Linked DNA regions of Homo sapiens. The protein of the gene in region 1 interacts with the protein of each later gene in a biochemical or structural test. Each region holds a gene or a part of one and is shown in the gene's direction. Other genes may lie near its edges. The genes, in order: STK40, TLK1 and COP1.

Region 1 (3,653 bases):
AATTGCATCATTGCACTCCAGCCTGGGCAACAAGAGCGAAACTCTGTCTCAAAAAAAAAGCTTATTTGGCTCTGCCATCAGACAGATCTGTGTTCTACTTCTATCCCTGCTGGTCACTAGGGATTACTTATTCTCTCCACCACAGCTTTCTCATCTGTAAAATGGGGACAATAAGAGTACCTTCGTAATAGGGCAGTTGTGAGGAGTAAGTAAGATGTTACAGGATGAGTACTTAACAGACACTGAGTAGTAAATGTTAGCTCTTATTACAGGCTACAGGAAAGAACTTTTAGGAATTAGTTGCAGCAATTCATGGCAACTAGAACTATGTCCCATTGAGCTGTCAGAAGTGTCCTGAGGGATCACAAGATCACAGAGTTTTATTTTATTCTTTCTGAAAAGAAAATCTAAGGGGAGTTTACCCAGTCTGTATGGGAGCCATGCAGATGATTCAGTTTGGCTCTTTAAAAGAACTATTTTTAAAAATAGAAGTAGGACTGCTGAGAAAAAAATAGTACTTTAAAGTATACATGGGTTGGCCAGGCGCGGTGGCTAACGCCTGTAATCCCTGCACTTTGGGAGGCCGAGATGGGCAGATCGCTTGAGCCTAGGAGTTCAAGACCAGTCTGGGCAACATGGCGAAACCCGTCTCTACAAAAAATACAAAAATTAGCTGGGCATGGTCATACGCACCTGTAGTCCCAGCTACTAGGGAGGCTGAGGTGGAAGGATCTCTTGAGCCCAGGAGATCAAGGGTGCAGTGAGCCGAGATTGCACCACTGCATTCCAGTTTAGGTGACACAGTGAGACCCTGTCTCAAAAAAAAAAAAGTATACATGGGAGTAAATGTATTTAGAATTTCTTCTCTGTGTGTCCCTGCTAGCAACCCTAGTCTGGTACCTGAATAAGCAGCATCAAGAGGCATCACACACACTGATGAGTGTGGTAGCTCAAAATACAGAGCCCTGATTCCACATACATGAGCTCCCATGTGTGGCTGGGGCTCTGCTGGGTCCTGGGGGCAGGAGGAGGATGGAGAGGCAGGCCCTACCATGGAGGAGGTTGTGATCTAGGGGCAGGCTCCTAACCAGTTAACATGTGCACAGTTTGGCAAGTCTCTCACAGAAGTCTATAGCATGTGGGGGAACCCAGTGGAAGAAGTGATCGAGCTCTAGGATGAGGAGGAGACTGGGGAGAACTTCAGAGAGCCCTTAGAACTTGAACTGGGACTGGGCACAGCAGCTCACACCTGTAATCCCAACACTTTGGGAGGCCGAGGCAGGAGGATCGCTTGAGCCCAGAAATTGAAGACCAGCCTGGCCAACATAGTGGGACCCCATCTCTACAAAAATTAAAAAAGAAAAAAATTAGTTAAGCGTGGTGGCATGTACCTGTAGTTCCAGCTACTTGGAAGGCTGAAGTGGGAGGATCACTTGAACCTGGGAGTTCCCAACTCCCAGTAAGCTGTAATCACACCACTGCACTCGAGCCTGGACAACAGAGTGAGACCCTGTCTCAAAAAAAGAACTTGAATTGGATCGTGAAGAATGAATAGAGTTTTCTGGGGGTCTATGAAGCCCTCCAGGCAGGGGGAGCAGCCTGGCACAAGCACGGATATGTGGTAATTTGTGTGGCACTTTAGGAACCACAGGAGTTCTAGCCCAGAGTGTGAAGGGACTGACTGCAGGATGTGCCTGAGAGGTAGGCAGGCACTAGGGCGCAGATGCTTGAATTTTGTATTCTGTTGGTGATGGATGCCTTGCATTAAGTGGAGGAAACATACCATTAGACCTGCATCTGCTTTGGAGGATGGAGTGGGTTGGGGAGAGGTTGGAGTCCCCATAGGAGGCTGTTGCAGTAATCCCAGCAAGGGCTGAGAGGGGCTTGGATCAGGGCAGAGGCAATAGGGTTGAGAAGAAGAGCAGAGATGAGCTGTTTGGGGGGAAATCAACTGGACTCTGGGAGTGTTTGGAAGTGATGCCAGAGGGAGGAGGAATGGTGACAGGTAACCTTGAGGTCCTTGGTTTGGGTGACAGAGTGAATGATAGTGCAGAGATAGGGATGGCTCAAGGAGAAGATAATGGCCAGTGAAATCTGCCAGCTTCGTTCAGTAAACCCTGGGCACACCCTCTCGGGAGAGGATCAGTTGGAAGGTCTTGTAGACCCCTGTCTGGACTTGGGCCAGGCTTCCCTTTGCTTTCGCCTGAATCAGCACCTGGGAGAAGGGCAGCTTTCCTTCCTTCACCTTTCCTCTGCCCAGATTTAACCAGGGAGGTGAACCTCTTCATGTTTCACATCTATAAAGCGATAAATCTTCAGCCTTCCAATAGCCCTAAGAGCAACCCTTCCCTCTGGCAATATCCACCCCGATTCAGCATACTACAGCCCACTGATGGGGTCCTGAACAGCAGAGACCCTCAGGGGAGAGAGGCTTTCTCAGTGCCCCCTGGAGATCTTATCTAGAGAGAGGTCTGGAAATTGGATTTGCTGCCTGAAGCTGGCTCAGCAGATTCAGTCCTTCTTCTCAGGAAGGACTGATATCTGCCAGAGGCCACCCAGGACTTGCTCAGAACCTTCAGGGAAGGGAGAGAAAGCTGCCCAGTGTCCTTGACCCTTGAAGTTCTAAGGGAGCCAGAAGCTGTCCCTCAGCTGGATTGGACTATAGTGAGGGGTGTGCTGGTGGGCGGGCCTTCAAACAGGCCCTTTGGAATTTGGGAGATTTTTTTACATGATTTGTCCTTGGGTTTGTGGTGTAAAGAAAGTAAACGAGAAAATGATCTGAAACAAGAGCACTTCTTTCTCCTCCACCTGCTCAGGTGAGACTCTGACCTCGAAGGTAGTCGAGGGCCCACAGCAGCCCCCGCATATCCTCCCAGGCTCTGTAATCAAGATCCTAGAGGGGAAAGGATGCAATTGCTTGCTGTGATTTACTTACTATCTTAGAGATAGTTCCACTTTGGCACATGCAGGTCTGGGTCATTTGTGGCTATGATGTGTCCCACTGTGAGTGTAATTTATTCAACAAGCTCTCTGCTAACAAACACTTGGGTTATTTTCTGCATTCTACTCTCTAAACACTTCTGCTGAAGTGACTTTCTTCATACATATGATTTTGCCCACCTTAGGTATCATCTGCAGGATAAATTTCTAGAAGTGAATTGCTGCCTCAAAGACTATCCTTTATTATTATTATTGTTAAAGAATTTCTAGGTCTCCTTTTAATAAATTGGGGCAGCCTTATTTTTCCCCCAGCAAGTGAATCTGTTCTTTTGGGTTGAGGTCGTACGTCCTGAGGGGAACACAGGTGTTCCCACTCCCTAAAGAGGCTACAACCCAGGCCGGGCGCGGTGGCTCACACCTGTAATCCCAGCACTTTAGGAGGCCGAGGCAGGCAGATCACGAGGTCAGGAGATCAAGACCATCCTGGCTAACACGGTAAAACCCTGTATCTACTAAAAATACAAAAAATTAGCCGGACGTGGTGGTGGGCACCTGTAGTCCCAGCTACTCGGGAGGCTGAGGCAGGGAATGGCGTGAACCCAGGAGGCGGAGCTTGCAGTGACTGCCCTCCAGCCTGGGTGAGAGAGCGAGACTCCGTTTCAAAAAAAAAAAAAAAAGAGGCTACAACCCAACGGTGTTCATTCTCTCCTGGC
Region 2 (3,653 bases), on another chromosome or scaffold:
AGTTGGAAAAATAACTGTTAGGAACTTTTTAATTTTTCTAAAAAGTGAGAAAGAAATAGGGGGTTGCTAGGAAAAGATAGATTTAAAAGGTTTTATCCAACCTACAAAAAAAGTGGTACAGTCATCTGTTTTCCTGGCTGCTTACTACTAGTATAGAGGAATAAGTCCATATTAAAAACAAATAATAGCTTTATTGTTTTATTTTTATTCAGTATATTGGCATTTATAAAATTTAATGTGAAAATTCACATTAAGGTTTTCTCTGATTTATTACCATGGAATTTCTGTCTTCTGATAATAAAAGTGTCATTGAGCTATATATAGTCTTAGCAGAGAAGATCATTAATAATTGTAGGGTTTGTCCTAATTCCATATTATTGCAAAAATTATCACCAAAATAAAAAACATCTCTTCAGCTATTCAATTGGTCTTTCATCTTAATTGTTTTTGACTTGAAATCCTAGGCTTTTGACCTTTATGAACAAAGATATGCTGCTGTGAAGATACATCAGCTTAATAAAAGCTGGAGAGATGAGAAGAAAGAAAACTACCACAAGTAAATACTAATACTTTATGGTTTTTTAAAATTGAATATTTTTTGAATGATCATGGAGAATTAATACACTGTCTTCTCATAGACATGCCTGCAGAGAGTATAGAATACACAAAGAACTGGATCACCCCAGAATAGTTAAACTCTATGATTATTTCTCCTTGGATACAGATACGTAAGTGAATATTAAGGTTCAATTTTTAAGGAAAGATATGCTTGCTTTCTCTTTCCCCATCCTGTGTTGATGATATAAATACTCTCCATTTCCCCATTGTGATTCTGAATTCTTGGATATTACTTATGTCTAATTTTTTTCTCTTCTCTGTTGTAGGTTTTGTACAGTGTTAGAATACTGTGAAGGCAATGACTTGGATTTCTATCTGAAGCAACACAAGTTAATGTCAGAGAAAGAAGCTCGGTCTATTGTAATGCAGATTGTAAATGCACTAAGATATCTCAATGAGATCAAACCCCCTATTATACATTATGATCTTAAGCCAGGTAATTATGAAATTTGTCTAATTTTTTTTAAACTTGAGTATAGTTTTTAAAAGTCATTCATTAAGTTATCTGAAAACATGTTTTTTGGTTTCTCTTGTAAGACATCAGTAAAATACTAGTAAAATTAAAAGTTATTAAAGTTATGTTTTTCATGTATGTATCATTAAAAGAATCTTATATTTTATTCTTAGGAAACATCCTACTGGTAGATGGAACAGCATGTGGTGAAATCAAAATCACTGATTTTGGTCTGTCCAAGATTATGGATGATGATAGCTATGGTGTAGATGGAATGGATCTAACTTCCCAGGGGGCAGGCACTTACTGGTAAGTGTATTACTAAAAACATCAGAATGTCTAGATTGGTGCCCAGTGCTTTTATAATAATTTAGTGTTTTTTTTTTTATTTCCATGTAGCCATTAAGATTACTGTGGTAAAGGTACTGATATTAAGCTCTCAGTTGAGAGGGAGACTTCTGTGGTCATTCCTCTTTTCTCATCTGTTCTTAACTGCAAATAACAGCATACTGGAGAGAGAATGACCTGGCATTAACAAGTGACTTCAGTACCTGCCAGTCAGAAACTCCTAACAGGAAGAATTCATTCATGGGTTTTCTTCTACAATGTTAGCGTGATGTTCATCATAAATATAAATACTTATGTTAATATAATATTTTAACTATTGCAAGCAAAAACTGCAAGCATCAAGCCCTCTCTGTGGAGGTTATATGGTTGCAGGAATTTTCATTTTATTTTGAGACAGGGTCTTGCCCTGTGCAGTGGTGTAATCTTAGTTCATTGCAGCCTCAAACTCCTAGGCTCAAGCGATCTGCCCACTTACTCTTGAGTAACTGAGACCACAGGTACGCACCACTATGCCCAGCTAATCTAAACTTTTTGTAGAGACCAGGTCTTAATTTGTTGCCCAGGCTGGTCTTGAACTCCTGGTATCAAGTGATCTGCCTCTCCCAAAGTGCTTGGATTACAGGCGTGAGCCACTGCACCTGGCTGGTGGTTTTTGTGGAAGATGGATGTTTTGTTGGCTGTGAATGGGAGATAAATTTGGCATATTCTTTGGACTTGACTTTCAGAAATCCCTTTTAAAGACTTGATATGTCTAGATTTAAATTTAGATATAATCACAGATTCATAGATATAAATCTAAATGACTGTCATCCCCTCAGTATACCTACGTGTTCACAAAAACTACTTCAGTGTGAATTTTCAAACTTGTTAAATTCACCAAAGTGGAGAACATAAACTATAAAATTTCAAAACAAACTTAGTTCTCAGAGAAAATTAGTTTAGCATAAAGAGTGACATTTTAATGGAAGAAAGATAACTGCGTTCAACTTCATTGAAACAGGATTGTGACTACAAACATAAATGTGACTTCAGGTTTTCCAGAACAGTATTCACACAAACTGAGCACATCATAACCACTTACACACGATGCCACTGTCTGTATAGATTTCACTTTTAATGAGCAGGGATTAGTCATATTCATGTATTCTTTTAAAGCCACTTTCAAATTTTAAATTTGGCTTGTGGCATTTCCTAGGAACATGGATAAGATAATAATGTCATGAATTTTTTCTTCATATTTTAAGAAAACTATTCAAACTGGTAACCCCCTGAAAGTCAATATTCTCAAAGTCTTTGGACTTTTTTCTTTTAGCAACAAGGCTCATTTTTTTTTTTAACAACAAAATCTTATTCTAATAAAACCAACAAAAACAAAGCATCTTGGTAGAATCTTAGATTCCATGGAAGATAGCTTGAAAACCATGTTCTAAACAATAAATTATTCTTCGTCTGCAGGACATTCTCATTATTTGTTTCTCTCTCACTCTGGCTTCACTAGTATAGGGAAGGACAAGGAAATTTCCCTTTTACAGATGTTCGAGGGACAAAGAGCTTATGTTTCAGGGGCTGTACTGGAAGGAGATACAATAATGGCATTGTTCTATAGGAACATGGAATGTATTTCTCATGGAAATCTGTGGTCCAAAAATTGGTTTATGTCTACAGTCATATTAGTTGTTTAGCTATGTACAGCTGACCTTGAATAATATAGGTTTGAAATGCATGGGTCCACTTTTATGTGGCTTTTTTTTTTCCGATAAATACATTGGAAAATTTTTTGGAGATTTGCAACAATTTGAAAAATCTCACTGACGAACCATGTAGCCTAGAAATATTGAAAAAATTGGCTGGACACGGTGGCTCACGCCTGTAATCCAAGCATTCTGAGAGGCTGAGGCGGGCGGATCACTTGAGGTCAGGAGTTCGAGACCAGCCTGGCCAACGTGGTGAAACCTCGTCTCTGCTAAAAATACTAAAAGTACAAAAGTTAGCTGGGCATGGTGGCCATGCCTGGAATCCCAGCTACTTGGGAGGCTGAGGCAGGGGAATTGTTTGAATCCAGGAGGCAGAGGTTGCAGTGAGCTGAGATCATACCACTGCACTCCTGCCTGGGCGACAGAGCAAGACTCCGTCTCGAAAAAAAAAATACTGAAAAAATTAAGAAAAAGGTATGTCACGAAGGCGTGAAATATATGTAGATACTTGTCTGTTTTACCATTTACTGCCATAAAAT
Region 3 (3,653 bases), about 140 Mb from region 1:
CAGTTTCTTCCTAGCCTCGATGGGCTTTACAATTTGGCATGATTTTGCAGTGGCTGGTATGGGTTGTTCCTTTCCATGTTTAGTGCTTCCTTCAGGAGCTCTTTTAGGGCAGGCCTGGTGGTGACAGATTCTCTCAGCATTTGTTTGTCTGTAAAGTATTTTATTTCTCCTTCACTTATGAAGCTTAGTTTGGCTGGATATGAAATTCTGGGTTGAAAATTCTTTTCTTTAGGAATGTTGAATATTGGCCCCCACTCTCTTCTGGCTTGTAGAGTTTCTGCCCAGAGATCCCCTCTTAGTCTGATGGGCTTCCCTTTGTGGTTAACCCGACCTTTCTCTCTGGCTGCCCTTAACATTTTTTCCTTCATTTCAACTTTGGTGAATCTGACAATTATGTGTCTTGGAGTTGCTCTTCTCGAGGAGTATCTTTGTGGCGTTCTCTATATTTCCTGAATCTGAAAGTTGGCCTGCCTTGCTAGATTGGGGAAGTTCTCCTGGATAATATCCTGCAGAGTGTTTTCCAACTTGGTTCCATTCTCCCCATCACTTTCAGGTACACCAATCAGACGTAGATTTGGTCTTTTCACATAGTCGCATATTTCTTGGAGGCTTTGCTCATTTCTTTTTATTCTTTTTTCTCTAAACTTCCCTTCTCGCTTCATTTCATTCATTTCATCTTCCATCACTGATACCCTTTCTTCCAGTTCATCTCATCGGCTCCTGAGGGTTCTGCATTCTTCACGTAGTTCTCGAGCCTTGGCTTTCAGCTCCATCAGCTCCTTTAAGCACTTCTCTGTATTGGTTATTCTAGTTATACATTCGTCTAAATTTTTTTCAAAGTTTTCAACTTCTTTGCCTTTGGTTTAAGTTTCCTCCTGTAGCTCAGAGTAGTTTGATCATCTGAAACCTTCTTCTCTCAACTCGTCAAAGCCATTCTCCATCCAGCTTTGTTCCGTTGCTGGTGAGGAGCTGCGTTCCTTTGGAGGAGGAGAGGCACTCTGCTTTTTAGAGTTTCCAGTTTTTCTGCTTTGTTTTTTCCCCATCTTTGTGGTTTTATCTACTTTTGGTCTTTGATGGTGGTGATATACAGATGGGTTTTTGGTGTGGATGTCCTTTCTGTTTGTTAGTTTTCCTTCTAACAGACAGGACCCTCAGCTGCAGGTCTGTTGTAGTTTGCTAGAGGTCCACTCCAGACCCTGTTTGCCTGGGTCCCAGCAGCGGTGGCTGCAGAACAGCGGCTTTTCGTGAACCGCAAGTCCTGTTCTCTGATCGTTCCTCTGGAAGTTTTGTCTCAGAGGAGTACCCGGCGGTGTGAGGTGTCAGTTTGCCCCTACTGGGTGGTGCCTCCTAGTTAGGCTGCTTGGGGGTCAGGGGTCAGGGACCCACTTGAGGAGGCAGTCTGCCCGTTCTCAGATCTCCAGCTGCATGCTGGGAGAACCACTGCTCTCTTCAAAGCTGTCAGACAGGGACATTTAAGTCTGCAGAGGTTACTGCTGTCTTTTTGTCTGTGCCTGCCCCCAGAGGTGGAGCCTACAGAGGCAGGCAGGCCTCCTTGAGCTGTGGTGGGCTCCATCCAGTTCGAGCTTCCCAGCTGCTTTGTTTACCTAAGCAAGCCTGGGCAATGGCAGGTGCCCCTCCCCCAGCCTCGCTGCCGCCTTGCAGTTTGATCTCAGACTGCTGTGCTTGCAGTCAGCGAGACTCCGTGGGCGTAGGACCCTCCGAGCCAGGTGCGGGATATAATCTCCTGGTCCGCCATTTTTTAAGCCTGTCGGTAAAGCGCAGTATTAGGGTGGGAGTGACCCAATTTTCCAGGTGCCGTCTGTCACTCCTTTCTTTGACTAGGAAAGGGAACTCCCTGACCCCTTGCGCTTCCCGAGTGAGGCAATGCCTCACCCTGCTTTGGCTCGCGCACGGTGCGCTGCACCCACTCTCCTGCACCCACTGTCTGGCACTCCCTAGTGAGATGAACCTGGTACCTCAGATGGAAATGCAAAATCACCCGTCTTCTGCGTCGCTCACTCTGGGAGCTGTAGACTGGAGCTGTTCCTATTTGGCCATCTTGCCTCCACCTCCCATTGTACATTTTTAAATAACTGAAAATGTATAATTAGATTGTAACACAAAGGATAAATGCTTGAGGTAGGTGCGCCATTCTCCATGATGTGATTATTATGCATTGCATGCCTGTATCAAAACATCTCATATTCCACATAAGTGTATATACCAACTATAATACTCAAAAAAAATTAAAAATGTTCAAAAAGTCTAGCACATACGATTACGTATACTACACAATACTTGATAAAGATAATAAATAACTATATACTTGTTTATTATTTACTTTTTACCATTATTATAGACTGTACTTCTTACACTTGTTTTTTTAAGTTACTATACAACAGCCTCAGGCAGGCCCTTCAGGAGACATTCCAGAAAAAGGTACTGTTATCAGAGAAGATGACATCTCTATGCATATCATTACCCTTGAAGACTTTTCAGTGAGACAAAACGTGGAGGTGAAAACAGTGATATTGATTATCCTGACCCTGTGTAGACCTAGGCTAACTTTCTGTTTCTTAGTTTTTAACAAAAAAGTTTAAAAAGCTTTTTCCTATTTTAATTTTTTAACTTATAAGGAAATGTAAAAAGGAAATACTTTTGTCCAGCTGTACAATGTATGTGTTTTAAGCTAAGTGTTATTACAAGAGTCAAAAAGCTTTAAAAATTTTTTAAGTTTATAAAGTCAGAAAATCACTGTAAGGTAAGGTTGATTTATTTCTGAAGGGAGAACACTTTTTTACAGTAAATTTAGTGTAGCCTAGGTATACTGTTAACGTCTTAGGCCTTCATGTTCATTTACCACTCACTAACTCACCCAAAACAATTTTCAGTCCTGCAAACTCCATTCATCATAAGTCCCCTGTATGGGTGTGTACCATTTTTTACCTTTTATATCTTATTTTTACTGTAGCTTTTCTATATTTAGATACGTAAATATTTACCATTGTTACAGTTTCCTACAGCATTCAGTACAGTAACATGATACATAGGTTTGTAGCATAGGAGCACAATAGGCTATTCCACATAACCTAAGTGTGTAGTAGTCTATACCATCTAGGTTTGTGAAAGTACACTGTATGCTCACACAGTGATGAAATTGCTGAATGATACATTTCTCAGAATGTATCTCCATTGTTAAGTATGTATTATTGTACTTACTGTTCAGCATCTCAAATCCAAAATCTGAAATGCTCCAATGAAGAAGCATTTGGAGCTTTGATTGAAATGTTGGCACTCCAAAAGCAAGGATTTGGGATTTTTTGATTTCAGATGTGCAACCTATTAATAATTATATTAAATGTAAGTATGTTGAATGTTGTAACATTCAGGGATTGGCAGAATGGGTTTACAAAAAAAAAAAAATTAGAATCCAGCTTTATGCTGTCTACAAGAGATAGACTTTAGATTCACAGACACAAATAGGTTAAAGTAACAGGATGGAAAAAGATATACCATGTAAGTAGTAGTCAAGAAAAATGGTAGAATGGCTATATTTAGGTCGAACAGAATATACTTAGAGTAGAAATCAGTACTAGAAACAAAGACATTTTATAATGGTAAAAGAATCAATAGTGAAAAGATACATCAATTAT

Evidence for each region.
Region 2: the proteins of STK40 (region 1) and TLK1 form a complex in vitro, tested with the Homo sapiens proteins (one large-scale study listed by BioGRID).
Region 3: the proteins of STK40 (region 1) and COP1 interact in a test that uses a peptide from one of them, tested with the Homo sapiens proteins (one study listed by BioGRID).

Annotation. Positions count from the first base shown.
Region 1 is NC_000001.11:36,379,363-36,383,015, reverse strand, and holds part of STK40 (serine/threonine-protein kinase 40), read left to right. Parts: intron 1-3,653. UniProt on the Homo sapiens protein: May be a negative regulator of NF-kappa-B and p53-mediated gene transcription.
Region 2 is NC_000002.12:171,003,875-171,007,527, reverse strand, and holds part of TLK1 (serine/threonine-protein kinase tousled-like 1), read left to right. Parts: intron 1-464; coding exon 465-556; intron 557-638; coding exon 639-728; intron 729-884; coding exon 885-1,054; intron 1,055-1,245; coding exon 1,246-1,381; intron 1,382-3,653. UniProt on the Homo sapiens protein: Rapidly and transiently inhibited by phosphorylation following the generation of DNA double-stranded breaks during S-phase. This is cell cycle checkpoint and ATM-pathway dependent and appears to regulate processes involved in chromatin assembly.
Region 3 is NC_000001.11:175,990,677-175,994,329, reverse strand, and holds part of COP1 (E3 ubiquitin-protein ligase COP1), read left to right. Parts: intron 1-3,653. UniProt on the Homo sapiens protein: E3 ubiquitin-protein ligase that mediates ubiquitination and subsequent proteasomal degradation of target proteins.